4 separate regions of the Homo sapiens genome follow, and all the other regions are reported to be linked to region 3. Evidence: microRNA targets listed by miRTarBase, many of them from high-throughput screens and not tested one by one. Region 3 holds a microRNA gene; each other region holds the end of a gene's coding sequence.
The links. Region 3 holds the annotated microRNA hsa-miR-103a-3p (AGCAGCAUUGUACAGGGCUAUGA, at 4,859-4,881, shown strand). A microRNA usually pairs through its seed, bases 2 to 8, with sites in the 3' UTR of a target mRNA and lowers its output. Matches are read on the target gene's strand: a 7mer-m8 pairs with bases 2 to 8, a 7mer-A1 pairs with bases 2 to 7 and ends in A, and an 8mer does both.

Region 1 (7,123 bases), not on the chromosome of region 3:
TACTTCAGAGTGTATAGTATAAAAGCGTGGATATGGTTTAATTTTTTTTTATTTTGCCAAACAGCACTGACATAGGTATGGTTTTAAAAAATAAATATGTGGGCTGGGTGTGTTGACTCACTCCTGTAATCCCAGCACTTTGGGAGGCTGAGGTGGGCAGACCACATAAAGTCAGGAGATCGAGACCAGCCCGGCCAACATGGCAAAACCCCATCTCTACTAAAAATACAGAAATTAGCAGGGCATGTTGGTGGGCGCCTGTAATCCCAGATACTTGGGAGGCTGAGGCCGGAGAATTGCTTGAACCCAGGAGGTGGAGATTGTAGTGAGCTGAGATTGTGCCATTGCACTCCAGCCTGGGCAACAAGAGTGAAACTCTGTCTCCAAAAAAAAAAAAAAAAAAAAAAAATTTTCTGTCACTACAATCACATAATAAACGTTCCATTTTTATCACAGCTCAGAATTTGTAACTATAAATATTACTCTCTACTAAGAAAGTAAAATTATCTTGCCCTCTATATTGTAGAGAAAGAAAGCATGGAATTCCATCAGAGTTATAAGATCGAGGTTGTAATATGCAGTTGAAAAATAATACCTAAGTTGAACAAATCATCGTATATTACTACAGCAGATGTCACTGCTTGAGCCCAGGAGTTTGAGACCAGCCTGTGTAACATAGGGAGACCCTGTCTCTACTACAAAACAAAAACAAACCAATACACACTACAAACTGCCTCCACTCTGTCATGGGCAGAACTATAGAATTATTTCCAAATAACAGAAATAGTGATCCTATCTAATATAAAATTACGGGAAATTTTAGTTTTAGTTTTAATATAATGCTGCATAAATAAGTACATCAAAGCACTCCTTCAGATATAAATAACATAGAATCACTTACTCCTGGTAGGTGAAAGCCAAATAATATTCTCCCTTCACTTTCATGTACTAAATGTTATATTTGGTATAGTCTTGTTGATATTTTAAACGATAAACCAAAGAATTCCCACCAAAGCTACTTAAAATGTATTTGTTTAAATTACAGCATAAATGCAGATTATCAAGTTCAATTTTCTAAGCAAATAGTAGTAAACTGACAATTGAGCTTATGCTAACAGTCAAAAGCTCCAGTACTTACTGAAAATATTTGGAAGATCTAGAAAAATCTGAAAGTTTGGGCATAAGTTAACCACAGAATGGGACAATATAATCATGCTTCTGGATGACATTTCACAAATCTATGGAAGGCTTCACTGCAAATGAGGCAGTAAATCATTAGTCTACTTTCAGAAGCAGAACTGATATGCCCAGGTTTCTGAGTGCAGATGGGCTCTGGAAAATCAGGAAGTGAAACACCATAGGAAAGAACACTGAACAGACACAGAAGTAAATGGATGCAACCTTTCCTGACCAAAATGGAACTTTCCAGAACATTCCATCAAAGCTTCAACCCATGTTACTTGACATTTCTCAGCCTGGTTCTGAGAATGTCCTGAATAATGCAGTGACAACTATCAAATACCTGTACTTATTTGGATACATGTGGATGAGTGCACAACTGTACAGTAATTTTTAAAATTCTAGAGAAAATCTGAGTTACTTATGCATTTGTCTCAAGCCCTCCTTCTTGACATCTAAGGCTTCTAAAAGCAATATTATTTTTATTATAAAAATAAACTGTCAATTATATATTATTGTATATATATATATATGATTTTTTTGAGAGAGAGAGAGTTTCCCTCTGTCACCCATGCTAGAGTACAGTGGCACGATCTCAGCTCACTGGAACCTCCACCTGCCAGGTTTAAGTAATTCTCATGCCTCAGCCTTCTGCGTAGCTGGGATTACATTCACGTGTCATCAAGCCTGGCTAATTTTTTGTATTTTTAGTAGAGACAGGGTTTCGCTATGTTGGCCAGGCTGGTTTCGAACTCCTGACCTCAAGTGATCTGCCCACCTTGGCCTCCCAAAGTGCTGGGATTACAGGCGTGAGCCACCATGCCCGGCAATAATTGCTTTTTAATTCAAACGTTAAAAAAAAAAAAGAAAAAGAAAAAGGAAAAATACGGGGAACACCAAAGCCCTAAATAAAAAAAAATTTTTTTTTTTGAGACGGAGTTTCACTTTTGTCACCCAGGGTGGAGTGCAAAGGCGCGATCTCGGCTCACTGCAACCTCTGCCTCCCTGGTTCAAGTGATTCTCCTGCCTCAGCCTCCCAAGTAGCTGGGATTACAGGCACCACGATGCCCAGCTAGTTTTTATATTTTCAGTAGAGATGGGTTTTCACCATGTTGGCCAGGCTGGTCTCGAACTCCTGATTTCAGGTGATCCACCCGCCTCGGCCTCCCAAAGTGCTCGGATTACAGGCGTGAGTCACCATGCCTGGCCAAGAAAATATTTTTAAAAGAAATCCTTCATGGCTTCCGAAGTTACAAGATTCTTAAAGGAAGTATATCCAGAGTACTAAGCCAAAAGTCTGGAAATCAAGCTTCTGGGACCTAACCTGACACTAGAGTGACCATGGCTAAATTACAACCCACTGGGAGCAGAGTTCCCTGGTTGCTAATATTTGGATCGGACAAAAGGCATACAATTGGGCCAAAATAGACCAGAAGGTTTCCACAACCCCTAGTTCCAACTTCCTATGACCCTATAAAATGATTAGACTATGTCTGATTGAATTGTATATTACACACCATAAGGGAATGCACATTTATGAAGGGTCAGAGGACTCGAAATATTCTATGACACTATGCATTAAGTTTGGAGTTACACAGCTGAATAGTAATACAGAGCTAGGAGCTTTCAATGTTTTATTTTTCATTTCTATGGAAAAGAGGTGAAGTGGACAGAAGGGATGTCTGAAATTCTATCCTGAGGCTTTAATATTTCAAATATTGTTTTGCATCTTTTTGTCTGTTTTCTTTAAAAAAAAAAAAAAAAAAGGAAAATAAACTGCTATTAGCAAATACCAAGCCAACAGGGAAAATTCTCCCAACACCAACATCCAAATTAACCCCATCTCCACCTCTTCCAGATCACAGGACATCTGGACAAAGGTTTAAAAAGACAAATAATTTTGACTTATTGACAGCCATTGTGGAAATAACTTTTCAGAAAGTATGAACTTACAAATGGGTACTTATAGGTAATGACCAAACCCAAGAACAAATGCAACTGTTTCAATTAGCAACAAGGACAATACAGTAATGAAAGCCTTGAATTGTTAGTTTGTTCACTTTCAAATATATTCCCTAATTTTGTGTTTGTAATCCTAAAACTCCCATTTTAGAGAATACAAAACAAGTTACATATTAGATCAAGTCATGTAAATTCAGGTGTGGTAAAATCAGATTAAAGATTAGGAGATTAGGGCTTTTTTCCTCTTTGGGTATTTTAATTTAGGATAATGTCTGACTTACTGGTACCAATACAGATATTAATGAAAACATTTCTGCCATGAAAAGACTGAGTTATAAGAGATGTCTGTAAGTATAGCTAAGAAAGAAGTGATACTTAATGGTTTTTTAAAAAAGCAGCAACAGGCCAGGCACAGTGTCTCATGCCCATAATCCCAGAGCTTTGAGAGGCTGAGGTGGGAGGACTGCTTGAGGCCAGGAGTTTGAGGCAAGCCTGGGCAACACAGTGAGACCCCTATCTCTACAAAAAAATAAAAATTAAAAAATTAACCAGCATGGTGATGCACACCTATAGTCCTAGCAACTTGGGAGGCTGGGGTGGGAGGACTGCTTGAGCCCAGGAGTTCAAAACTGCAGTGAGCTATGATCACACCACTGCACTCCAGCCTAGGCAACCAAGCAAAACTCTATCTCTAGAAAAAAATAAATAGATAAATAATGATAAAAGTAGCAACGCTCAGGGAACGTTACAATAAAATGCTGTTCCTAAAAAAACACAACATCCATGAAGACAAAACCCTAATACATATTTTTTCATTTATGAATGAACTACTCTATCACGTCTCATCGTCTCCTTATAAATGGGTAGCTTAACTGCCACTAGTATTTACCCAACATGCTTCTTTATGAAAATCGGTCCTATGGAAAGTCTGGAATCACCAACAAGAGATTTCACACTTGTTACCTAAGGGTAGCATGAAGTCTGTGTGTATATTTGCACATGTACATTATATATATATATACACACACACATATCCCTATATATAAAATATATACACATATATATACCTATATGTATGTATAAAATATATATATATAGGTGTGTGTGTATATATATACCTATAGGTATATGCTTCTCCTCGTCTCTTCACACAGAAGTTTCTCCCCTCAAATCAGTCAACTGTTTGTGCCCAAGTCTGTAACAGACACTGTCGGGGATACAAAGGTGTATGCATGAGAGAGGATCCCAGCTCTCAAGACAGTTATAATTTACTTGGGAAGATAGGACATATTCACATAAAGCGGTCCCAGTACCAGTAAAATTGATGGTTATCATATTTTTATTAGTAATATGGAGGTGCTATCATCTGCACATTGTTTGCATGAACCACAAAGCTTTAATCCAAATAGTTAAGAAAAAATAAATCCATGCCATTTATTTCAATTATATTAGAATACAATAAATATACAATAAATAACTGAATTTCTTTTGGGTATGTAAGAAGTAGCATACTAGCAGTAATAGGGAAAATAGGGCAAGATATTTAATGGCCAAACTATTACATAAGCTTAGGAAAGGAAATTAAGGGAAAGAAAACAGTTTTGCTATTATTACCTCAGCATGACAATGACAAAGAAGTGTGATTTTTCCAGGCTTTTCTCAGAACCCAGAGATGTGTGAAGATTAACCTGCTGGGCTAGGTTTCTGGAGATCCAGGTGTTAGCCCTGACTCCTTCACAATTATATTCTCTCCTGCCCTGATTTTCTACCTGTAATAGTTGAGGTTTGAACTAGATGATGGCTAAAATTCCTTTAATGAACACTTCTGGTAACCCTTTATTTGATAAATATATCCAGGTCCTCCATCACCCACCACTTCCCAATCCCTGTCTTCTCTACCTCTGACAAAATTACTGTGTACAACATTCAATTTTTTATGAATCTGTCACTAATTATTTGTGTTTATATATACACTAACTTCTTTATGGTAACTGGTTGAAAAAGCAAAATTCTAATTTCTGTTGCTAAAATTTAGTTACTAAACAATCATCACTTTTACATTATCTAGTCCTAATAATCTAGCCAGATTAACATGGCATATTAGTCAGTATTCTTACAAGAAGAGTTTTGGTGTAGCTGTGATTCACAATAGTTAAAGATCAGATCAAATCATTATGTATCCATCGCTTTTACTGGCTTAAAATTGACTTAGCTACACAGCAACTAAGAGTACAGTAATATTTAATTTCTCCCTTTTATGATAATCCAGTGACAACACGTAAGTATGACTTTGCTACTAAAAGGCTATATAAATATCCTTTCATCTGATAAGTCTTATTAAACCTCTAGTGTTTGGGGGAGGAGGTTAAGAGAAGAAGAGGTTGTAATATTGAGTCATCTCAAATTATTCCTATTATAATTTTTATGTTGGAAGTATTCTTGTTTGGACATCTAAATATTAGGACAGTTATCACCTAGGAACAGCAATGAATTCAAATATTATCCAGTAAGATGCTAAACAACACAAGCTCTCGTCAATTCTTAAATACCTTTTGAGTCATTACAGTAAAGAGATAAATCCAAAATGGAAAAGGGAGAACATACTCAAGCTTCCATGAAGCGGCACGATAAGGTGAATAATTGGCACAAAAATAAAGCAAAGAATTGAGAAGTATGCTGGAAAAGTCTTTCAAATACTATTCTTGCTTGTATCTAGCTCCATTATACAGTTTAAATTTTGGCCAAATTTTTAAAGTATTTGTTAAACAGTTCCCGCATGTGACATATGTTTCCAGGATACTTCTGACATTGATATGAGAAATTATAAAACATTTAGAAATGAAAATGTTACTCTCAAACAAAAAACACTATAAGTTCCAAGCTTCTTCTGAATTCATAAGATGGAAAAACATTTGGAAAATAGTACCTTTCTGTTTTAAAATGTTCAAATAATGTATTTTTTAAAAATGTGTAATCATTCAAGGAAACGGGAAAACAAGTCTAAATAAAACCGGGTCCTAAAGTTTACTCTAGGAGTCATTATTCTTCCTTTGCAGTCTCAATTCTATTTACTCCATAACAAGTAAACTGTTTTATCCCTTCGGCTGGGAAGGATAATTTTTACCCTACCAAGATGATGACAATGCCACTGCAGTGCTCACCCAGCAAGAAACACATAAATATGAAGCAGCATCAAAGTCTTTCTATGAAGTGTATGCAAGAATTGATTTGCAATGCATTAATTCAGGAATTCAGTGGAGAGGCTCCTACTATACCTAGCAGATCTAAACTTGAGCTCATGATAACACTGCACAAAGCTATGGTAGATAAAAGTGATAGGTAATGCCAATAGAACAATTCCACTGACAACACAAACTCCTCCAAGAATTCTTCCAGGCACTGTGATAGGATACATATCTCCATAGCCAACTGTAGTCATAGAGATAATCACCCACCAGCAGGCAGCAGGAATGCTGGTAAAGTCCTTGTTGGATGTTTCCAGGTCCAGCCCATGTTCAAGAAGCTGAGAAAGTGCACTAAAGATTGCCATGGCAACACAAATGAAGACAAGTAACATAACCATCTCTCGGTAGCAACGTTTGAGAGTCAAACCGAGTGTCTGAAGACCAATGAAGTGACGGGCAAGCTTAATCACCCAAAAAATCCTCATCATTCTAAGTACCCTCAAGGTGACTCCAGCCCTCTGGAGTTGAGAGTTCTCGCCTGTAAACACTGTCATCAACACAGAGATGTAATACGGCGTGATTGCCAGTAAATCAATGATGTTCAGGGGTCTCTTGACAAACTCACACTTGTTTTTGGAGACAATGAACCTCACGATGCACTCGGCAGTGAACCAACCTATGCAGATAGCTTCAATTATCCTGTCAAGAGAACAAAAGAAGAATTGATCATTTTATTTTTAAGCATTTTAATAGCTCTTAGATTTCTTCAGATAGTACTACACTGACATACTAATTCA
Region 2 (7,123 bases), not on the chromosome of region 3:
CTCTGGTCTTCTGGCTGAGGCCAGGAGAGCCCCAGGTGGTCACATGGGCCCCAGGAGCGGCCGGGGAGGCTCATCCAGGGCATCATGGTTCTGTGGCCTTGGGGAGGGGCGGGCCTCCCGGCAGGCAGGTGGCTGAGCTCACGCCGCCCCGTCCTCACAGTGTACTGTCAGAACTTCGCCCCCAGCTTCAAGGAGAGCGAGATGAACGTGATCGCCGCGGACATGTGCACCAACGCCCGCCGCGTTCGCAAGCGCTGGCTGCCCAAGATCAAGTCCATGCTGCCGGAGGGCGTGGAGATGTACCGCACGGTCATGGGCTCCGCCGCCGCCAGCGTGCCCCTCGACCCCGAGTTCCCGCCTGCCGCGGCACAGGTGTTCGAGCAACGCATCTACGCCGAGCGGCGGGGCGACGCCGCCACCATCGTGGCTCTGAGAACTGACGCCGTGAATGTTGACCTGAGTGCCGCCGCCAACCCCGCCTTCGACGCCGGCGAGGAGGTGGACGGGGCTGGCTCGGTCATCCAGGAGGTGGCCGCCCCCGAGCCGCTGCCCGCCGATGGCCAGAGCCCCCCACAGCCCTTTGAGCAGGGCGGGGGCGGCCCCAGCAGGCCCCAGACGCCGGCGGCCGCGGCCCGGAGGCCGGAGGGCACCTATGCAGGGACCTTGTAAGCGGAGCTGGGTGGCTGCGCGAGGGACCGAGTACTAGAGCTGCTTGCATGCGTTACTAATACAAACAAATGTGATCAAGCCACTTACCTACTGAACTGCTACTGTTGCCTGAGAAAAATGTGATTTTTATTCTGCTTGTATTTAAAATTGATGAAGGAAACAAATGCATTCATTATACTGTAAACAATTAGGCCACTGGCAGCCTCCTGCGAGGAAGTTCCCAGGGCTCCCTTTTGATATTCACAAGGTCAGCCTCCAAGTGTAGCTTCCCTCCCCCTTCTTGGGGAGGGTGGGAGGCCGCCAGGCCCCTGGTGCCCAGCCCTGCCCCTTCCTCCCTGCCCTTCCTGCTCCTCCTGCCCGGAAGACGAAGCAGGGGCCGGCGGTGGTCTGTGGCGAGGGGGCTGGGCTGTGCGTCACTGACCCTTCCTTCCTTCCCCATGGAACCTCTCTGGGGCGACGGGGCAGGGCTCAGGCTCCAGGGCCTAACTCCTCGTTTTTCCTTCTTTCGGAGACTCGGGGCCAGGCCCACCGGGCCTTCCACCTGTGTGGGGTGTGTGCACGAGTGTGTGTGTGTGCGTGTGTGTGCAGGGGTGTGGTGAGGGGGCAGTGATGGCTGTGGCCCACCCCTCGGGGTGGAGAAAAGGGTACTTTACTCTGCCCCCACACCCTGTCCTTGTTCTGCCCGATCCGTCTCGGCTCTGCAGCCCCTCGGTCCCCTGACCCCCAGGGCACCGCTGACCCCGCCTGGCCTCCCACTGTCCCGCCCGGGCCCACTGTGGGACGTGCACAGCTGATGTAGCACACGCTGCCCTCTGCCGCCTCAGCCACTTTGGGATTATGCTTGTCTTGTTTTTTTTAGGTTTTGTTGTAATTTAGATCTATTTCATATATGGTTTGGAAACTTTCAGACTCAATAGAACAAAAACTTTGGGTGGGATGGGTGTCCCTGTCCCCAGCCCACCATGGCTTGGGGTGGGTCATCTGTGGCCGTTAGGGTGCGTCCCCCTGCTCCCCCGCCCAGGGCCAGGGACCACTCGTCTCCCACTGGGGGAAAAAGGGGGTCCCGGGTGGGCGACTAGTACGTGTGAAGCTGAGCTCAGGGCCGGACCTGGGGAGCGGGGGACTCCGCTCGGGCAGGAGGCAGCGGCCAGGGCTGGGCCAGGGCGAGAGTCGGTCCTCCCGGTGCTGGGCTCCCCGTCTGCCTTGAGGGGTGTGCATGGATGGAGGGTGCCTGAGGCTGCAGGCAGGGGATGACCGGGACAGGCCTGGGCTGGGGCAGTTGGAGGTATGGGCACTGGTAGGGGACAGAGGGTTAGGGATCATGTTGGGGGGCCAGGGACAGTGGAGGAAGGGCCCATGGAAGATGGGGCTGTTTGGTTTGAGGCTGGAGTGCTTCCTTTGAAATTTAATTACTGTTTTTTAAGTGGTAGGGCTCACAGACTGTGTGAAGTCCTGTGTGAAGTGCTGGTGTGGCCACCTACCCAGGTGTCCCTCCCTTTTGTTTTGGAGGCCTGTGTCCTTGTCCAGGGGCAGCCCTCCTTCCCAGGTGTGGCCAGAAGAACCCCCCATCCCAAGACTTGAAATGTCTGTTGCTCACCTCTGTCCCTCCAGAACTCGGCTTCCCCATCTTCACTTGCAAAACAAGTGCAGCCCTGCGCCCATCAGCACCCCCTCCGGTGTGCACACAGGCCAGTGAGCGGTGGCCGACCAGCGCACCCCACTCCCCCAACCTCCACAACCCATCAAGCGGAGGCCGCCTCCGCTAGGGGAGGACCATGTGCTGCACCCTGGCCTGGGGACCTACAGGGTGTGGGTTAGACGCATTCCCACTGGGCGGCTCCTTTCTGCCCCGAAGCCCACCCCTGTGGCGAGGCCCTAGGAGACCTCCCGTGGGGCCGCCTCTACAGACAGCACTCAGCCTCCTGGGCTGCCTCCAGCCAGGCCCAGCACATGCCTGCCCTCCAGAAAAATACGTTGCTTTCCAGAAGGAGGTGGGGGACCATGGGCAGGCACTGTGGACGCTAACCTCGGCCCCTCCACCCATTCCTCAGGGCCCACGTCCAGGGGGACCAAGACCTGCATTCCTAGGGCTGCAGGTGGCTCAGTGGTGCAGAGGCATCCAGACCTTCTGCTGAACTAAGAACCACCCAGCCTAGAGGGAGCCTTTCTCTGCCTCTTCCTCCCCTGTCTTGGGCACAGGTGGGGTTGGAGCCCCCATGGGGCCCGCTGGGAACCTGGACCAAGCCTTCCTCGGAGATGGGAGGAAGCCGCGGGGTGGAGCAGGGGCAGGTAGGTGAGGTTGAGCTGCACTTGAGTTCCCTCTGGAGTTTCCTTCATCTGCCCCACACCCAAATTTGCACTTTAATTTGACCATCCCTGGGGGCCTGGCTGCTGACAGAAGGGCTCTCTCTGCCCTCCACTCCAAAGTGGGTGCCCCCCCACCCTTGGCCAGGACAGGGAGGGAGCCGCTGGCTGCTGCCGGAGGTGGTGGCTGCACAGAGGACGCCTGACTGCTGTTCAGGCCCGCACAATGTCCCGTGCCCCTTCCTCACTCGTTTGTAATCGCCGTCTGTTTTGTTCTGGGTAAGGAAGGCAAGAGCTATAGATAAAACTTAAATAATAATAATTTAATGTGAATGGGTTCTGAGCTCTCCCTGCGCCCCGGGCGGGCCAGGCCGAGCATTTTGCACTAATGTGTCCCACGGTGGGCGTGAGTCGGGAGTGTCTGTGGACGTGCGTGGCTGCTGAGCGGACCTGCTGTGTGCTCCCTCCACGTCCTGAATGTACCGTGGGGCGGGGGCGGCGGCCCGGGCTCAGAGGGGCCTTCCAGAGTGCCTTAGCATCCTTTGATCATTTTTCCCAAGGAAACCAATTAAGAAAGCCGGACCCTTCCCTCCTTTGTTTACAAGATGACTAATTCTAGAATCCGGGGTTGTCCTGTCCTGTGAGTGTGACCCTGACTCATCCAGACCCTGTAGAGAGAGACGAGCCACTCAGTATTTATGAGATGTCTGCACCTTTATCCCTAAGCCTGACTATTAGCAATACGCATATCCTATATAGAATCTATTACAGAGCTACGTTATCTCCACACCTTTTGAGGAGGACAGAAGGGACTGGACCGTGTTGGAGCTGCCGCCTGGCAGGTGGTGGGCCTGGGATCTAGCCGCCTCTCCTGCCCTGCCTTCCTCTTCCCCAAGGGGATGGGCCCAGGAGGCAGCTGGGTTGCATGGAGAGGTCCAGGAGGGACCGGAGGTGTGACAGATACTGTGAGCCCGGCGGGCCGCGCCTGGCTGGGTGCCTCGGTACTTGAATTCTGTCTTGTTTTCCGCATTGTGTCTGTCCACCCGAGTTCTCTGTCGTCACTTAACTTTGCATTGGATTTGGTTGTTGTACTTTGCCCCTGAATGTGGACAAAGCTGTGGGCAAGAGGTCAGCAGGACCCGCCTGGGGGTGCCGGCGTTGGTGACTGCGGGTCGGGGCTCCTAGAACATAGGAGCCGGCTGCCTGGCCTCCTTTCTCCTCCAGGAAGAGTCATTCTTTGGCATTTGTGTTTAGAGCCAGGAGGAAGGCGGAAGGTAGGGAGGGAGGGCTGGTCCCCCTCTGAGGGGGCTCTAGTGCCTGACCCTGACCTGTCCTCATTCGACAGCTGAAACTGTTAAGCGCTGGCCCAGTCCCCCCACCCCACCCAGCCGTGTACTGCCTGGGCTCCCCTCAAAGGGAAATTTTTATGGAAACATCTTGGCAGCAAGTGGAAAAAGATCTATGGCCCATGAACCAACTGAAAACTCCAAGAACCCTCTGTCTGCCTCTGCCAGCAGCGAGTCCTAAGCGCAGAATCCAGAGCTCGTAGCTGTCCTCAGCTGTAACTACTGTTTCAGAATGTTGCTGCTGCATACTTTTGTCATGTCAGCCAGCCAGCTCCGTGGGTGAGAGTGTGCGTGTGCGCGTGTCTGTGTGTGTGTGCGTGTCTGTGTGTGCACGTCTGTGCGTCTGTGTGTGCGCGTCTGTGCATGTGTGTGTCTGTGCGTGTGTGCGTCTGTGTGTGTGCGTCTGTGTGCGCGTGTGTGTGCGCGTCTGTGTGTATGTGTGCACGCGCGTCTGTGTGCACGTGCGTGTCTCTGCACGCGTGTCTGTGTATGTGTGCACGCGTGTGTCTGTGTGTGTGCACGCGCGTGCACGTCACCACCGGAGCATTTAGGGTTTGGTACAAGATGGTTCTAAAATGGCAAAGGTTTTTCGTGTTTGTTTGTTTTGTTTCTTTGGAAAAAGAAAAGGAAAGGAAAATCATGCAGAATCGCAAGCATTCAGACTGGACGACCGGCTCGTATTCCGATCAGTCGCTTCCATTGTTAGCATCGTACACGATTGTGATTTTTATGTCAAAAGAAGCCAAAACTTGCAATACTATTTTTAGCAGACAAAAAAAAGAACTAAGTATAAAATGTATAAATATTTTTGACTTGAAGATTTGGATGGCACTGGGTGCAAGTAGAGCATCCATCCTTCGGATGGAATGTTTGGAAAAAAGAGACTTTTAAAAAGGAGACGGTTGTTTTAAAGAGTCTGTTTAGGGGTTAAAGTACTGTAACTCACGACTGTTAAAAAATAAATTTTCCTGTGCTGTAAAGGAAGGTTTCACAGTACCACTGAGTTAGATTTCAGCCACAGATGCTTAGCTTTTTTTTTTTGTCTTTTTTTTAAGGAGGAAGCCTTTGTTTTGTTTTCCTGAGCCCTCACTCTGTTTTTGTGCTGTTACTCGGTAGAGTCAAGACTGTTACTTTTTAGCCATGGCTGACATTGTATCAATAACTAAAACTGAAACATTCAAAAGCGAACAGGGAAACCGAGGGCTTCAAGCGTGCTCAGAGCCGTTTCAGACAGTGGAAATCCATGACAAACAAAAGGATGTGATCATTAATTGTAAAGCGCTTTGTAAAATTCACATTTACAAAATAATAAAGTCAGTTCAAACCTAAGTTTCCTGGACTTGGCTTGGCCCTGTGGGGTTTGGGGGAGACACAGAGAAGCCAAGCTTGGGCTATTGAAGGCAGGGGTGGCCAATGGTCCCCCAGGGGCACCCTCAGGACCCCGTCCCTGTTAGCGGCGTCCCCAGGCCAGCTGTCCACACAACAGGGCAGGGATCTGGCTGTGGGGTTCAAGGTCACCTGACCCATCTCTTGCTCTCCCCAGTGTTTTACAAGGGAAGGGGCAGGTGGGTAGGATGTCTGCAGGTACTAGTGTGCCTGCTAGAGGGGGGCCCTGTCCGGACCCGCAGGCAACCTGCCAGGGTCGGGGGGTCTCCTTTTCGGGACCTTGGTTTTATTGTCTGAGAAGTGGGGCAGCCCCTTCATCTGCCTCACCTGCCACCCAAAAGGTGCGTGGCTCCTTCTTTCCCTCCCCCTCCCCCACCCCCTCCCGGGCCATGTCTGCCCCCAGGTGAACAGAGAGACAAGTGCAGGTGGGCAGAGCTGGGCCCGCGGGGTTGGCCTTCTCTCCAGCTCTGGGGCTGGTGTCCTGGGGTTCAGGCTGCGTGGCCAGCCCCATTCCCTTTTGCTCCTCTGGCGTATCCACAAGGACAGGCTGAGTGCTTTGCAATCATGTGTCCCCCAGACCTGTCCTGCCGGGCCCTTGATGGGTGCCTCCTACGTCTGGAAGCACTTTCCTCTGGATACCTTCCTGGCAGGCTCCTCACTTCCTGCGGTCCTGTGAGGGTCTCGTCCAGGGGACCACCCCTGATCACCTTACGGGCACCCCTCCCTGGCCTCTCTTCCCCTTTCACAGGGTTCATGGCACCCGCCGTACTGGAGGGAGGTGGTGGATTTATTGGGCAGGGCTTCATGGCCATGTTCCCAGAAGAGGGTCCTCTGGAGCCAGCATAGGGCAGCCCCTGATTGTCTCAAATGGATGGATGTGGTTTCCATATGGGCCCCCTGGATGGAAGGGCCCATGTGGCAAGGGGATGGCGCTTGAGGTCACCCTGAGCCATTGCCTCCTACAGGAGCCACATCACCACACTGTCCCCACCAGGAATGCCCAAGGGGTCTGTTCCCCAGTGGGGGCCAGGGAACACGGAGTGTTCCAGTCCCCATCCCACCACCAAGCCCAGCCCCAGGCCTCCAGGGTAAGTGTATCCGACTCAACTTCCTGGAGAAGGAGCAGAGCCCCCAGCTCTCAGGGCCAGCACCTGCCTGGCTGGTGGGGAGCTTGGTGAGGACAGACAGCTTGGATGCACACCTGCAAGACCCCAAATGCCGCACCCAGGTGGGTCCCAGGCCCCCTCAGCAGCTAGGACTGCTGAGGTCTGGGTGGCCCAGTTAGGGGAGGGAGGGTCGTGGAGAATGCCCCACCTTGGCCCAGGAATCCTGCCACTCTGGGAGGGGGCCTACCCAGCCCAGTCCTCCACCAAGTCGGCCCTGGTTTTCCAAGGAGGAGGGGGAGCCAGGCACCTGCT
Region 3 (7,123 bases):
TCCCAAAGTACTGGGATTACAGGCATGAGCCACTGCTCCCAGCCAACAGATAATGTATTTTTATAAGATGTGTATGTCAAGACTCAAACTGAAATTATTAAATGTTTATTAGTCAGCATCAGTTGGGATCAAAATTTCCATAATGGTAAAGTGAATTTTTATCTAGAATGAGTCTGGTAACGTTTTTTCTAGAATTTAACTGGAGCATTTACTTGGAAGCAACAGTGTTCTATTGATTTTAAACTTTATTATGTTTATATTTTGTTCTTTTTTCCAAAGCATTTTTCTTCTTTACCTATTTTTTGACTTTTTAATGGATATTAATATATGTAAACCCTTAAACTGCAGTACTGGGGAACATTGTAATTTATTCTTATAGGATGAATTAATGTGATTTCTTTTTGTGATAACATTAATGTTCCCAAATAGCCCACATACTTTTCTGTAATACCTGAAATACGAATGAGAAATAAGATATAAAACTCATGATTCTTTTATGTATTTTATCAACTTTTACAGAGAGGTGAAGATTCCAGTTTAAGGAAGAAAGATTTTCAAATACTTTAGATTAATTTGTGAAAAAAACTCATTTTAATTTTAAAGTAGTAATTCTGTTTAAATTATACTTAATTAGTACTTTATTTTTATGGTGGTTAAAAGTTCACCTCTGTTGTAATTCTCTATGCCAAAGAATTGTACACTGCTATTGCCTTCTTCGGTTAACTCTAAAAGAAGTTCAGTCTGTTAACTAAATCCAACAGTGATTCAGGGGTAGAACTTGCTAGAAATTTAGATGAGACTAGGGAGCAAAGGTTTACAGTTTAGGAATTAGATATGATTTCATTCTGTGAGCATATCCAGAAGAATAATAGAAGCAAATAAATTTCTGTAATTGACATGTTGGCCAGCTGGACATAAATTTACTCATTGTATTTATGTGTAGGTCATGTGAAATATTAGTGTATCATATTGAATTGATTTCATCCATGTCAGGCCAAGTAAAGAAGCCTTTCCCAAAATCATTTCTTGGAAACGATTTAAAATTACAAAGATGGGCATGGTAGTTCATGCCTGTAATTCTAACACTTTGGGAGGCCAAAGTGGAGGATTGCTTGAGACCAGGAGTTAAGACCAGCCTGGGAAACATAGTGAGACCCCCATCTCTACAAAAATATATACATATATATTAGTCCAGTGTGGTAGTGTGCATTGTAGTCTAGCTGCTGCGGAGGCTGGAACAGGAAGATTGCTTGAGCCCAGGAGTTCAAGGATACATTAGGCTATGATCATGGTCACTGCACTCCAGCCTGAGGGACAGAGTGAGACCTTGTCTCAAAAGAAAAATTACAGATTTTCTCTTTGTAATTAATATGGTACTGATTTTTAACATTTATTCCTTTTTAATGCACACACAACAATTTATCTTTGGTAACTACAGAGTGTAAGGTATTAGGTGAAGACTTTGGGAGAGATTTAATAGGTCTTTCCTTTCCTCATGTTTCCACCAAGTGATTTTTTTCTTTGGTTTATTCTTTGATCTAACAAGTTTGGTTTTACTAAACAATTTTTGTTGCCTTCGTTATGTTATTTCAGCACTCAGCATTAGTCATAGGTTTTTTTTCTGTGTGTTCATTGAATACATGAATGATCCACCCTTTTACTTTAGAGAAAGAATATAATGTATAAATGCAACTTAGCAAGTTTCTTTATTTTCTTTAGCCTTGGAGGGGGTACCTTTCTGGGTTTATGCAGTTTATTGACTGGCTGTGAAAGTTTTGAAGAGGCTCTTGAAATGGCATCCAAAGGTGATAGCACACAAGCTGACAAGCTGGTCCGTGATATTTATGGAGGAGATTATGAAAGATTTGGTTTGCCAGGTTGGGCTGTAGCATCTAGGTAAGTTTAACATTTGTGTTATTTAAGTTACAGAAGTTAAGTAATTCAAGTTGCTTATGTTTTTGGAAAGCAATGTAACAGAAAGTTGTAAGGGTGCTTTCTCTTATCCAGTTTAGGTTCCAAGTTTTGAACATTGATGTCATTTAAAAATTAAGTATACATTAAGAAGTTTACCCTGAGTGCACCTTGTAAGAAACTTTTTTTTTTTTAATTTTTGAGTGTCTTTCCAGTGTTTATGCAAATACAAATACATATTTTTACTTTTCTCCCCATATACAAAAGGTAATCTACCATTATATGGCATACTATATATACTCTAAAGTATCCATATAGAAATCTTTACATGTTGTTGACCTTATTTTATACAGGTGTAGGATAAATTCCCAAAAGTTGGATTGCAAATGCATTTTTGAGATATTGTTAATTATGCAAAAGAGCGGTACTGTTTTTCACTCTCACCAGCGGTAAATGAAAGTGCCTGTTTCACCAGTAGAGTGCTAACTTTTGCATTTTTGCTAATCAGATGGAGAAGTGGTATCTTAATGTAATTTTAATTTACATTTCTCCTACCAACACTGGGGTTAAGAGCCTTGCATATTTTATTTTCTGTGAGTTATTGTTCATGTTCTACTTTTCTGTTGGATTGTTATACAGTTGAATTTATCAGTCTTTTCTTTTATGGCTTCTGGATATTGATTCATAGTAAGTAAGTCTTCTACATTCCAAATATATAAAGGAATAAACCCTTATTTTCTTCTGATATGTTAATGGTGGTATTTTTATACTTAAATCTTTGATTTACTTATAGTTTATCTTAGGGTATTTTGTGAGTTACAGATCATGCTTTCATTTTTCAGGTTTTTTGTTTTTTTTTCCAGAAGGCCCTAATGTCTAATAATCCATCTTTATTTCACTGATTTGAGATGGCTTTTTTACATATGCTGGCTTTTCATTCTGTTGATGTACCAGCATTATACTTTCAGCTTTATAGAGGCATAAAAAGTATGTTTTAATCTCTAGAAGGGCTAGTTTCACTCCTTTGCTTGATTTTCTGTATGAACTTGGCAAACATTTTCTCTATTACAAAAATGTTTTTGGAATCTCAGTAAGTTTACATATTAACTTAGGGACAAATGATATCTTTATAGTAAGTCTTGCTGTTGAAGAACTTAGCTTGTCTGTTTGTTTAAGGCTACTTTTGTGCCTTTCACACATTTAAAAAGGCCTCTCCAAATATGTCCATACATGGCTTTTTAAATTGATTCCTAAATATTTTAAATTTACTGTTCTGTTGTTTATCAGTCTTGTCTCCCATTATGCTTCCTAACCATTGTTGCTTGTGCACCCCAAGTTCTTTGTCAGGGAATCCAGTGCCCTTTGATAGTGGACTTTGTCTCACTCTTCAGTAATATCTCCTGCCTCTCCCTTGCATAGACGCTTCACTCCGACCAAACATCTTGTGATTTCATAGATGTTTTCATTTCTCATTTCTGTGTGCCTTTAACCTTTAGTTGCCTCTGCCTAAGATTTTTCTTCTCATTTTTTCTGGCTTTTTCTGGTCCTTTTGCTCTGAAAGCCCTGCCTCATACCTTCTTAACTTTTTTCTCTTACCACTGTAATAAAAGATATTTTTTTGTTTGTATTTCCAAGGTTAGCCTTTGTTTGGGGTTAGCCTTTGTTTGGATTTTTTCCCTGTTACTGTTAGCGCTTCTCTTGCTGTCTTTTGTATGTAGGCCTGCATTGTCCATTACAGTAGCCTCTAGCCACGTAAGGCACTTGGCTTATGAGTGCCACATGTTGAATTGATGATATTTGGATATATTGGCTTAAATGAAATGTACAATTAAAATTAATTTCACTTGTTTATTTTTACCTTTTTAATGTGGCTAATAGAACATATATGAAATTATATATTACTCGTATTTTATTTCTATTGGACAGTGCTGCACTAGACTAATTCACTGTTTGAGGGACTATCTGTCTCCAGCACAAAGCTTGGTATGTCATAAATGTTTCTTGTGACTGAATGAAAAAGAATTTGAAGTTAAAGCTGAGATACTTTTGGAAACATTTTGTAATTTTGGCTAATTTGTTTTGAATCAGGTTTAAGTGAAGATATTTTGGTAATCTTTGCTTTCTTATAATAACTAACTATGCTTTTTTTGAGATGTCATTTTAACCTTAATTCTTTGAAAGGTATTACTTTACTCTTGCATAGATTTTTTTTGTTAGTTTGTTTTGATCTTATCCCTATGTGTTTCTACTTTTTGGTCCTAATTTTATAAAAATATCCAGGTTGTAGATATATCTGTTAATACGTAAAATGTTGCTTTTTATCAGCAGATTTGACTTTATTTTTCATTTTTCTGCAGTTTTGGGAATATGATTTATAAGGAGAAGCGAGAATCTGTTAGTAAAGAAGATCTGGCAAGAGCTACTTTAGTTACTATCACCAATAACATTGGTTCTGTGGCACGAATGTGTGCTGTTAATGAGGTAAAAAAACAAAAAACACAAAACTTGAATTATCAAAAATGTGAATTGGAGTCCTATATACACCTAGCAGGGCTTCTTCACTTTCCCTAAGGAGGCCTCTGGGATTGAGATGTAACCCATTAAATGCCAAGACTCATTAGGTATATATGTTACGTATCCAGTTGCTATATTACTTTTAAAGAAAGTAGCAGATAATTCAAATTGAAATAGGAGAAATTTATTCAGAATTTTTTTTCAGAAAAACACAACCTAAATCCCTTGAGGATGTAAAAGAAAGTTCTAAGCATAAGACATTTTGAGATACTTTGTGAAAGCATTTTTTTTAGTCTTAATTTTGCATTTGGAAGGCAGCTATGCTCACCACTATACCACCAGTGCTTAATGTTGCATTTGATTAGTGAAATTCTTGGAAGTTTTCTTACTGCCCTCGGCTTCTTTACAGTGCTGCCTTGTTGCATATGGATCAAGCAGCATTGTACAGGGCTATGAAGGCATTGAGACCTGTTCTTCATGATATTTGAGTGGTGTTTATTGTTACAAGAAAAGTGTGAAAAGGATATACTGTTAGATTGACCATATAGTTGGGATTCTTTGTTTGGAAGAGAATATATATATTTAATTCTAGCTTCCTTATATAATAATAGATATATTTGCCCGTTTAATTTTTATAAATATCAAATACTTTAAATGGATTGGGAAGTACGCTTTTCGAAGGAACCCTTCATTTGTTCATTCATTCATTTATTCATTGAGTAAATATTTACTGATTACCAGATGCCAGACATCGTTCTGGGTATTTGGAACATATTAATGAAGAAAACAAAGATCTGGCTTTGTGGAGCTTGCATTCATTCTAGTGACATATTAAGTAAATTGTGTAGTGTGTATTAGGTGATAAGTGCTATTTTTTTAAAAAGAGACCATCAAACAGGATAAAGAGGATTGGGAATAGGGCAGAGAGTGGTAGAGGACAAATTGCTAAGTAATTGAGTGGTTAAAGGAAAGCTTTATTGAAAATGTGATTCTTAGGCAGAGGTTTGAAGGAGGTGAGGGGGAAACTGTGCATGTAGACATTTTGGGGAGAAAGCTTCCAGCAGAGAGAACAAATATGCAAATCCTCTGAATTATTCTGTATTTAAATCCAGAACTTGGTCTCATCAGTTTTTTAATAACTTAGAAACTTAAGTGTTAGTTGGTTGATGGAGTTACTAGTAGACCATGTTGGGAGCTGACAACAATTTGAGACCTTTATTCTTAGCCCTTTATGTCTAAATTTCCACTGACCAATTGAGTTAACAATAATTTAGGCCATGGTTTACAGTATCCCAACTTATGTACAAAGATTTCTACTCAAAAGTCAGTATAGTGTGAGAGTCGAAATAAGTTTTCTGGTGATTCAAACACCAGTTCCCCTTTGTAAGATTTCCTAATCATAGAGATAATCTAAGAAACCAAATTAGTGTGGAATCTTTGCAGAGAGAGAATGATTTGATGAATCAGGCAGGGGACGGAGAAAGAATGCTAGAATCCTAGGGGAATGCACATGCCAGTACCCCAGTCAGTATTACTCTCCAATTCTGTAGAATCCACAGTTGCATGTCATTGTTCAACATGCATTGCAATGTGTGGGCCAAGTTTGCTACTTATCAACTAAATGCATTTTATAGTACTTACCATGTTTTGATTTTTTTTTTTAATCACATCAGTAATGTGTCTCCAAATGACTTTGTAAGGGGGCTATTTATTGGCCATTTTCAAAAACAAATCTCACCTGAAATCATCTGCTAGAGTCTTTCTGGAACCTTTTTTTAAAAGTAGACTTTATTTTTTAGATCAGTTTCAGGTTCACGTAAAATTAAGTGGAAAGCTCAGTGAGTTCCCATATACCACCTTCCATACACACACAGCCCACTTCCATCCTCAGCATCCCATAGTAGAGTGATCATGTGTTACAGTCCATAACCCTGTGCACACATCATCATCACCCAAAGTCCATAATTTAGGGTTCTCTCTTGGTGTTACACATTTTGTGGATTTTGGATGATGTGTGCAGAACTAATTTTTAAATATTCAGGATTATACAGCTATATGCCAGGAATGTAGTAGGTGTTATACTAATAAAGCGTAGTTGTGTTTTTTTGCATTTTAAAATAAATTTTAAATAAATATTTAGAAACCTTTTATATTGTAAAATCTATTATTTTTACAAGTTTTTTCTTTGTTCTTTTCTTTTAGAAAATAAACAGAGTTGTCTTTGTTGGAAACTTTTTACGTGTCAATACCCTCTCAATGAAACTTTTGGCATATGCACTGGATTACTGGTCAAAAGGTCAACTAAAAGCATTGTTTCTAGAACATGAGGTATGGTAGGAAAATGTTTTTTGTGAATTTTAATAGCATGTTTTTTAAGAGACAGGGTCTTGCTCTGTCACTCAGGCTTGAGTTTAGTGGCACAATGATGGCTTACTGCAGCCTCTTCCTCCTGGGCTCATCAATCCTCCCACCTCAGCCTCCCAAGTAGCTGGGACCACAGGTATGCACCACTGTGCCCAGAAAATTTATTTTTATTAATATTTTTTGTGGAGACAGGATCACTCTTTGTTGCCCAGGCTAGTCTGGAACTCCTGGCCTCAAGCAATCCTTTATAGGTGTGAGCCACCATGCCCAGCCTTAAGTAGTAGAATATTGGTTCCTTCGCTTCAGTTTCAGTTGTGGGGAAGAGAATTACAAT
Region 4 (7,123 bases), not on the chromosome of region 3:
GCAACAACAGGATGAGGAGGGCTGATTTAATGCCTGAAGTTCGCAGCAGGGCTACGGGGCACTTCCTTTATTAGGCCACTTCGGGGAGCAAAGGGGGTGTGGGCTCGGGTCCCCCCGCCCGATCGCAGGGGAAGGGGCTGTTTGTGCAGCGTCCGGCTGTGTTATGAGTGGTAGCTCTTCCGTGGTGGCTAGCCCGGGTGCACAGGCTGTTAGTGGGATCTTGGGGGTGGTGGTTCGCAGCCGACGTGCGCCCGGGAATCCTGGGGGGCAGAGGCGAGCAAAAGTGGGGTGCGCTGTGGTGGGCGACACGTGTGGCGCGGGTCTCATTATCTGCCCTTTTCACTTCCAGGACTGGAAATGGCAGACCATATGATGGCCATGAACCACGGGCGCTTCCCCGACGGCACCAATGGGCTGCACCATCACCCTGCCCACCGCATGGGCATGGGGCAGTTCCCGAGCCCCCATCACCACCAGCAGCAGCAGCCCCAGCACGCCTTCAACGCCCTAATGGGCGAGCACATACACTACGGCGCGGGCAACATGAATGCCACGAGCGGCATCAGGCATGCGATGGGGCCGGGGACTGTGAACGGAGGGCACCCCCCGAGCGCGCTGGCCCCCGCGGCCAGGTTTAACAACTCCCAGTTCATGGGTCCCCCGGTGGCCAGCCAGGGAGGCTCCCTGCCGGCCAGCATGCAGCTGCAGAAGCTCAACAACCAGTATTTCAACCATCACCCCTACCCCCACAACCACTACATGCCGGATTTGCACCCTGCTGCAGGCCACCAGATGAACGGGACAAACCAGCACTTCCGAGATTGCAACCCCAAGCACAGCGGCGGCAGCAGCACCCCCGGCGGCTCGGGCGGCAGCAGCACCCCCGGCGGCTCTGGCAGCAGCTCGGGCGGCGGCGCGGGCAGCAGCAACAGCGGCGGCGGCAGCGGCAGCGGCAACATGCCCGCCTCCGTGGCCCACGTCCCCGCTGCAATGCTGCCGCCCAATGTCATAGACACTGATTTCATCGACGAGGAAGTTCTTATGTCCTTGGTGATAGAAATGGGTTTGGACCGCATCAAGGAGCTGCCCGAACTCTGGCTGGGGCAAAACGAGTTTGATTTTATGACGGACTTCGTGTGCAAACAGCAGCCCAGCAGAGTGAGCTGTTGACTCGATCGAAACCCCGGCGAAAGAAATCAAACCCCCAACTTCTTCGGCGTGAATTAAAAGAAACATTCCCTTAGACACAGTATCTCACTTTTCAGATCTTGAAAGGTTTGAGAACTTGGAAACAAAGTAAACTATAAACTTGTACAAATTGGTTTTAAAAAAAATTGCTGCCACTTTTTTTTCCTGTTTTTGTTTCGTTTTTGTAGCCTTGACATTCACCCACCTCCCTTATGTAGTTGAAATATCTAGCTAACTTGGTCTTTTTCGTTGTTTGTTTTTACTCCTTTCCCTCACTTTCTCCAGTGCTCAACTGTTAGATATTAATCTTGGCAAACTGCTTAATCTTGTGGATTTTGTAGATGGTTTCAAATGACTGAACTGCATTCAGATTTACGAGTGAAAGGAAAAATTGCATTAGTTGGTTGCATGAACTTCGAAGGGCAGATATTACTGCACAAACTGCCATCTCGCTTCATTTTTTTAACTATGCATTTGAGTACAGACTAATTTTTAAAATATGCTAAACTGGAAGATTAAACAGATGTGGGCCAAACTGTTCTGGATCAGGAAAGTCATACTGTTCACTTTCAAGTTGGCTGTCCCCCCCGCCGCCCCCCCCACCCCCATATGTACAGATGATAATAGGGTGTGGAATGTCGTCAGTGGCAAACATTTCACAGATTTTTATTTTGTTTCTGTCTTCAACATTTTTGACACTGTGCTAATAGTTATATTCAGTACATGAAAAGATACTACTGTGTTGAAAGCTTTTTAGGAAATTTTGACAGTATTTTTGTACAAAACATTTTTTTGAAAAAATACTTGTTAATTTATTCTATTTTAATTTGCCAATGTCAATAAAAAGTTAAGAAATAACTTGTTTTCTAGAAGTCATTTGGGGGTGGTTGTTCCCTTTGGTGGCTTTTTTCCCCCCGTCTTTGAGTTGAACACTATTGATGAGAGTAAGCATTCCAAAGGATAAATTACAGGACACTAAAACAGGTCATGATGAGCTTAAGCGGAGAGCAGGATTTAACATAATTGGCATAATGCTTCATTGTTATCATTGTAACATGCCTCTTGGTGTGCTTTAATCAAAAGCTGCAAAGTTGTCACTGCTTTTTTTTTTTTCTTAATTGCCATCATATCAAGTGTACTCCAGAGTTAGAAAGGTTTGCAATACTCAACATTATCTTTTTCAATGGGCAGGAGGCAAAAAAAATCAAGTGTTTCTGTTTATACCTGATTCAACTACTTAAATAGAGGTAGATTGGAATAATACACTGATTGATTGATGGGTGGCATTAAATATAAATCTACCTTTATCTCCAGTGATGAGAGTTTTATTTCTCAGCAAAAGTGCCAAGGATAGGTACATATTTTCTAGCGTAATCTCTGAAACAGTGTCTGACTGGTTTATAGTTCTGAGAAAGATGAGGCAGAATTCCACTTTGAGGCTTTTGTCCTATAATATTTAAAATGTACTCAGGTTGACTCAAAGGTCAAATTACAGTCTTTACAAGATGTTCCCTCTTAAGCATGCCCTGTTTTCCTGAATTCTGAGTTTTCCTGTTGCATGCATGGGATGCAAATCACCTGAAAATTATACTTTAATTTTACCTGGATAGATGTCTTATCAAGAAGACCATAGCTACAACTAAGTGGGTATCAAGTTTTGCCTTATATAATCAAGCAAAGGAAAAAGTAATATTGTGAAAATCTCAAATTATCCCAGGTGGAAGGAGAAGGAATTTTGTTTTTCATGTTTTCATGGCTTATCTTATGTTTATAAGAGCAACACACCTACCTTCAAGAAAAAATACAGACTTTTGTACGCAACTTACTAGGGGAAGTAAAAAATGTAGGTTGAGGAAAATCTTATAAATAATGCTTTAAAAGAACATTTCATTTAGACTCCGATTCTCATCTTAAATTCCATATTTTATAAGAAATCAGGAGGAGCGGATATTTAGAAGTGTTATGAGAGAGTAAGTTGGGCATAAAGGCTGCTTTAAGTATAATTCAGATCACCTGCATTTTATAATTTTATTTCCAAGGTAGGCCATGTAAAATTAAAATGCACACACTCCACTGGGTTTTTTATATACCTCTATAATTGACACTTTCTTCTTTAAAATTATGTTCAAATAAATATACTGAATCATCCAAAACTCTTTTTACCCTACTTTAAAAGCTGATCCAGATTTCCACATTAATAGTTAAAGCTGAAGTTTTCTTCAGCTAAGACATGTCAATACTAAATCTGCAATCAGCAATGAATCTTTCTGGCTAAGCATTTTCACAGTAAGTTTTTCTTTCTCTCTCTCTCTTTTTTTTTTCCAGAGGCTTAAGTGAAAAAATATGTTTGCATACATATTAATACAGCAACTCCAATCCTTTTTCACTAGTGCCAGGAAAAAAGGAAAGTGATTAAATGCATTTTTTTTTTTTTTTTTGCATAAAGAAGCCAAAGAATTGTCTTGCCACCACCCTTCACCATTTATTCTGCCAGGGAATAAGCCACAACACCTGCTCTGTCACTAAATTCCTCCTGCTGCTCAAACGCCGGAACACGTATGTGGAGATGCAGAGCCCAAGGAACTATTATTAGATCTTGAGCCCATCCCTACCAGAACAGAGGACTCAAACAGAGGAGCTGGGCTAAAAAGCACAATTTGTCTTCAGTACAAATACAAACGCTCCCGCACCCCAGTTCACTTGAGTGATCTCTGTTTCATTAAAAACTCTTTCTTGATCAACAATTGAGCAGATTCTACATGATATCTGCAGGTCTCTTAAGCAGAGAAAAATAACTCCTTGTTTCAACAACCTGATTAATGAAACCTGTACAGTGACCTAGATCACCCGGCTACTGGCAGACATTTGCAAAACCTTTTGTGGTCTTGCTTCCTACTAAGTTGCTTATAGCATATGGGGAAATTTGACCTCTGTACCTTGGCTGTTTGTCAAAAAGTTCTAATATGATACAAGAGAGCTTCTGTTCTTTAAGCTTTGCCCAAAAATAGACACTCCATGCTTGATTTTCAAGAAGAGATCAATGATAAGCTGCAGTGCAACCTCATAGCTACATGTCAGAAAAATAAGTCCACATTAATAAAAACGTATACTTCTGTCTTGTGCCTGATAAAATCCTCGTGACAGTATCTTTGCGGGAGCTGATAAAGACGTTAGAGCTATGGATGGGTCTTTGAAGAACAGTTACCTAATCACCACTGTTTATGGGGTGCTGGGCTAGAGCACTAGTAGCAGAAGGCTGACATCTATTGTGAAGTTTATGGTCTCCATGACTTTTACTACTGTAAACGCCTGGGATGGCTATAAATTGATGTCAACATTAAAGGCCAGATCCTTTAGAGAAAAATATTAATCCACTAATCTATTATGGGTGGCCAGCTTTGCAATAAAAACTTTGCAGCCCCGGACCATTAGGTGTTTTCGCCCCCTTGTGGAATTTATTTAGAAGGTCAATGAAAAGCTGTTTCCTCAAGAGCTTTTTCGCTTTTTTGTTTGTTTTGTTGCCATTTCTGAAGACTTTGTTTTCTTCTTTGAGCAAACAGCACATATTCGAGCAACACATTTTTTAAATCAAAGAAGATTCCAAAATAAACATCCTTTATAAAATAAGAATATTTTACTTACCAAAAACCTTAACCTATGATTAAGTGTGCATAATTGAGATTTGCCTCATATTTGAAAATATGCATTACCTAAGGGGTTTTCTTTTAAAAGTGTAAGGAGCAGTGGTTTGGGCTGATGCTTTAGCCTGCAAACTGAGGGGATGGCAAACCCTCAGCGCCTCCACAACAGGACTGTTGATTTGCAGTAAGGGTAAATAACAATGCATTTGACGGTATGAGGTTGGAAAGGTGGAGGGAAATATCCAGGAATGCAGAATGCAATTATCCACATTGGAATGTGACCAAGCCACCAGCCCTAATCTTGTGAAAGGACTGCAGGATCTTTAATGAGGATGAGTGTTGCTGTCTAATTGAGTCAGTAAAATTTACTTTAAAATAAACTGGGCAGATAACATTGTCTCCAAAAAATAAATAAATTTAGAATTCAAGGAATTTAAGACCCATGCCATTGGCAATTTTTTCCTCTGCAGTGGAAATGTTTTGCTAGCATGAAAGCAGCAGTACACCTCTTCAGAAATGCATGCTTCAGAGATGGTATTTATCATTTTGGGACTGCACCACTATCATCAAAATCAGCGCTCCCAGGCAGGTTGAGGCTGAGCCTCCAGAAGAGAACAATAGGTAGCACATCAAATGACTCAGCCAGTGAACCCCTATTATCATGGGCTCTGTTTGTCTTCTCCCCCTAGAATAGAAGGAACAATGGCAATGTCAGAATTTTAATTGCAATGGACTGGCTTAAATTACTTGACCTATTTTTATGCAGCAAGGAGAAAAATGATTCTTTTTTTTTCCTGGTAGCCATACTTTTAATTTAAACTGGAAAAGGAAATATAAGAATATTTTCCATCAAATAACATACTGCTGATAATTTTAGTTTGCCTTGTAGTGAGACCTACCTATATTTTAAAAAAATATTAAAACATCTGAAATAAAGAACTTCTTCCCTTCCCAGGAAGAAATTAAACTCATAAGTAATGCAGTAATGCTAAAGAGTGAGAAAATATTCTAAGAGCGGCTGGCGTGAATTTCTATCATATTTTGATATTTATACACAATGAAAGAAAAGCTATGATAAGTAAGAGTCTGTTGTGTTGAGGAACTGAATCCATGATCCTTGGGAAAGAGAAACTATCAGACCGACCTCTTCCATACTGTCTATGAACAAATAATGACTTTTTAGCGGCTGGATTCTTATCAGTTACTTCCTTCCCCTAGAGGAGCACTAAATGAAGCAGCCCCAGGAGGCAGTTAGTGGTGCTTTTTGAGAATTCAGCTTGGCTAAATCAGGACTTGCAGAGTGAGCAAAAAGCACATGAAAGAAAGATGGACGGTGAATATTATTACTTGCTTTATATGTTATTAGTTTTCATTAGGCTGAACTAATCTGAAAGATTAGTGAGGCAGGGGCACAACCAGGGGTGAGGACTGTGGTTCACGGAATTCTTGGAATTTTCCCATGGTATCACCATTGTGCTCAGCCCTGAAATCCCTCCCTTTCTTCCCTCTACAGTAGAGTGGTTACTTGATTACATTTTGGGTTGCTGAACAAAGCCGACAGGGGAATCTGTCTCCTGAGGAGCCTGTAGCAAGGCAAGGTTAGCGTGGTGCGCATTGCAGGAGATATGCAAATAGGCGAGTGGCTTTTGAAAAGTTAATAGTGCCCAAAGAATTCTGCCTGTCCATTCCTGAAAGCTGAGTGGGGAGCAAAATTAAGGCTTGAGTGCAAGTCAAACTAGCACAAAATCAGGAAAAGTCAGCCAACTCCAGATTGTCAGTACTGTTTTTATGAACACATGCTACAGTGAAGGAAATGGGATTGGAGGCTATTGAGGTCTTTTCTCTTTGGGTTTTCCTATGGATTGGTATAACATTTGGCCTTGTGATTTCCTTAGTCACTAGGCCACAGAATTTTATTGTTGTTAGTGGTGGTGGTTTATTCTCGTAACCCACTGGGTTTGGGGTTTGGTTTGGGTTCCGTTGGGTTTTTTGCTTCATGACAGTTGCTATCTCCTTAAAGCACATATAGTATACTTCAATTGTGCATACACATTCTTAGATCACCTTGTAAATATGGCCCCGTTGCATGTATTTTGGATAACTCTTGAAAGGAGGATAAGCAAGATGATGACCAGTTTCATACATCTCTCTTCACCCTATGTGTTTAGCAAACATAAGGACGATGAGGCCAGTAGGTGAAAAATGATTGAACTGACTGTTATGTTCCTAATATGAACTTAAATATCTAAATGTTTCTAAGATCCCCTTCTGACACCATTTTTTGGATCAATAGT

Region 1: miRTarBase lists KCNG3 as a target of hsa-miR-103a-3p. Seed matches in the 3' UTR shown: 7mer-m8 at 6,328-6,334.
Region 2: the mRNA of NACC2 is a reported target of hsa-miR-103a-3p. Seed matches in the 3' UTR shown: 7mer-A1 at 2,448-2,454 and 7mer-A1 at 4,559-4,565.
Region 4: the mRNA of CITED2 is a reported target of hsa-miR-103a-3p. The part of its 3' UTR that is shown has no 7-base or 8-base seed match.

Annotation. Positions count from the first base shown.
Region 1 is chr2:42,437,555-42,444,677 of GRCh38, forward strand. It overlaps KCNG3 (potassium voltage-gated channel modifier subfamily G member 3), which reads right to left. Exons shown (of 2, transcript NM_133329.6): 2 at 4,463-7,025. The coding sequence ends at 6,380. It overlaps LOC124900542 (small nucleolar RNA SNORD75), which reads left to right and starts at 2,823; the gene lies at 2,823-2,882.
Region 2 is chr9:136,005,062-136,012,184 of GRCh38, reverse strand. It overlaps NACC2 (NACC family member 2), which reads left to right. Exons shown (of 6, transcript NM_144653.5): 6 at 161-5,648. The coding sequence ends at 669. Among named protein-coding and RNA genes, the nearest start is that of UBAC1, 47 kb to the right of the region's middle.
Region 3 is chr5:168,558,662-168,565,784 of GRCh38, reverse strand. It overlaps MIR103A1 (microRNA 103a-1), which reads left to right and starts at 4,812; the gene lies at 4,812-4,889. PANK3 (pantothenate kinase 3) reads left to right here. Exons shown (of 7, transcript NM_024594.4): 4 at 1,720-1,896; 5 at 4,269-4,392; 6 at 6,628-6,753. MIR103B1 (microRNA 103b-1) reads right to left here and starts at 4,881; the gene lies at 4,820-4,881.
Region 4 is chr6:139,367,179-139,374,301 of GRCh38, reverse strand. It overlaps CITED2 (Cbp/p300 interacting transactivator with Glu/Asp rich carboxy-terminal domain 2), which reads left to right. Exons shown (of 2, transcript NM_006079.5): 2 at 350-2,495. The coding sequence starts at 358. The coding sequence ends at 1,170. Among named protein-coding and RNA genes, the nearest start is that of CITED2, 3.9 kb to the left of the region's middle. RefSeq lists silencers at 126-275, 846-945 and enhancers at 496-555, 4,665-5,483.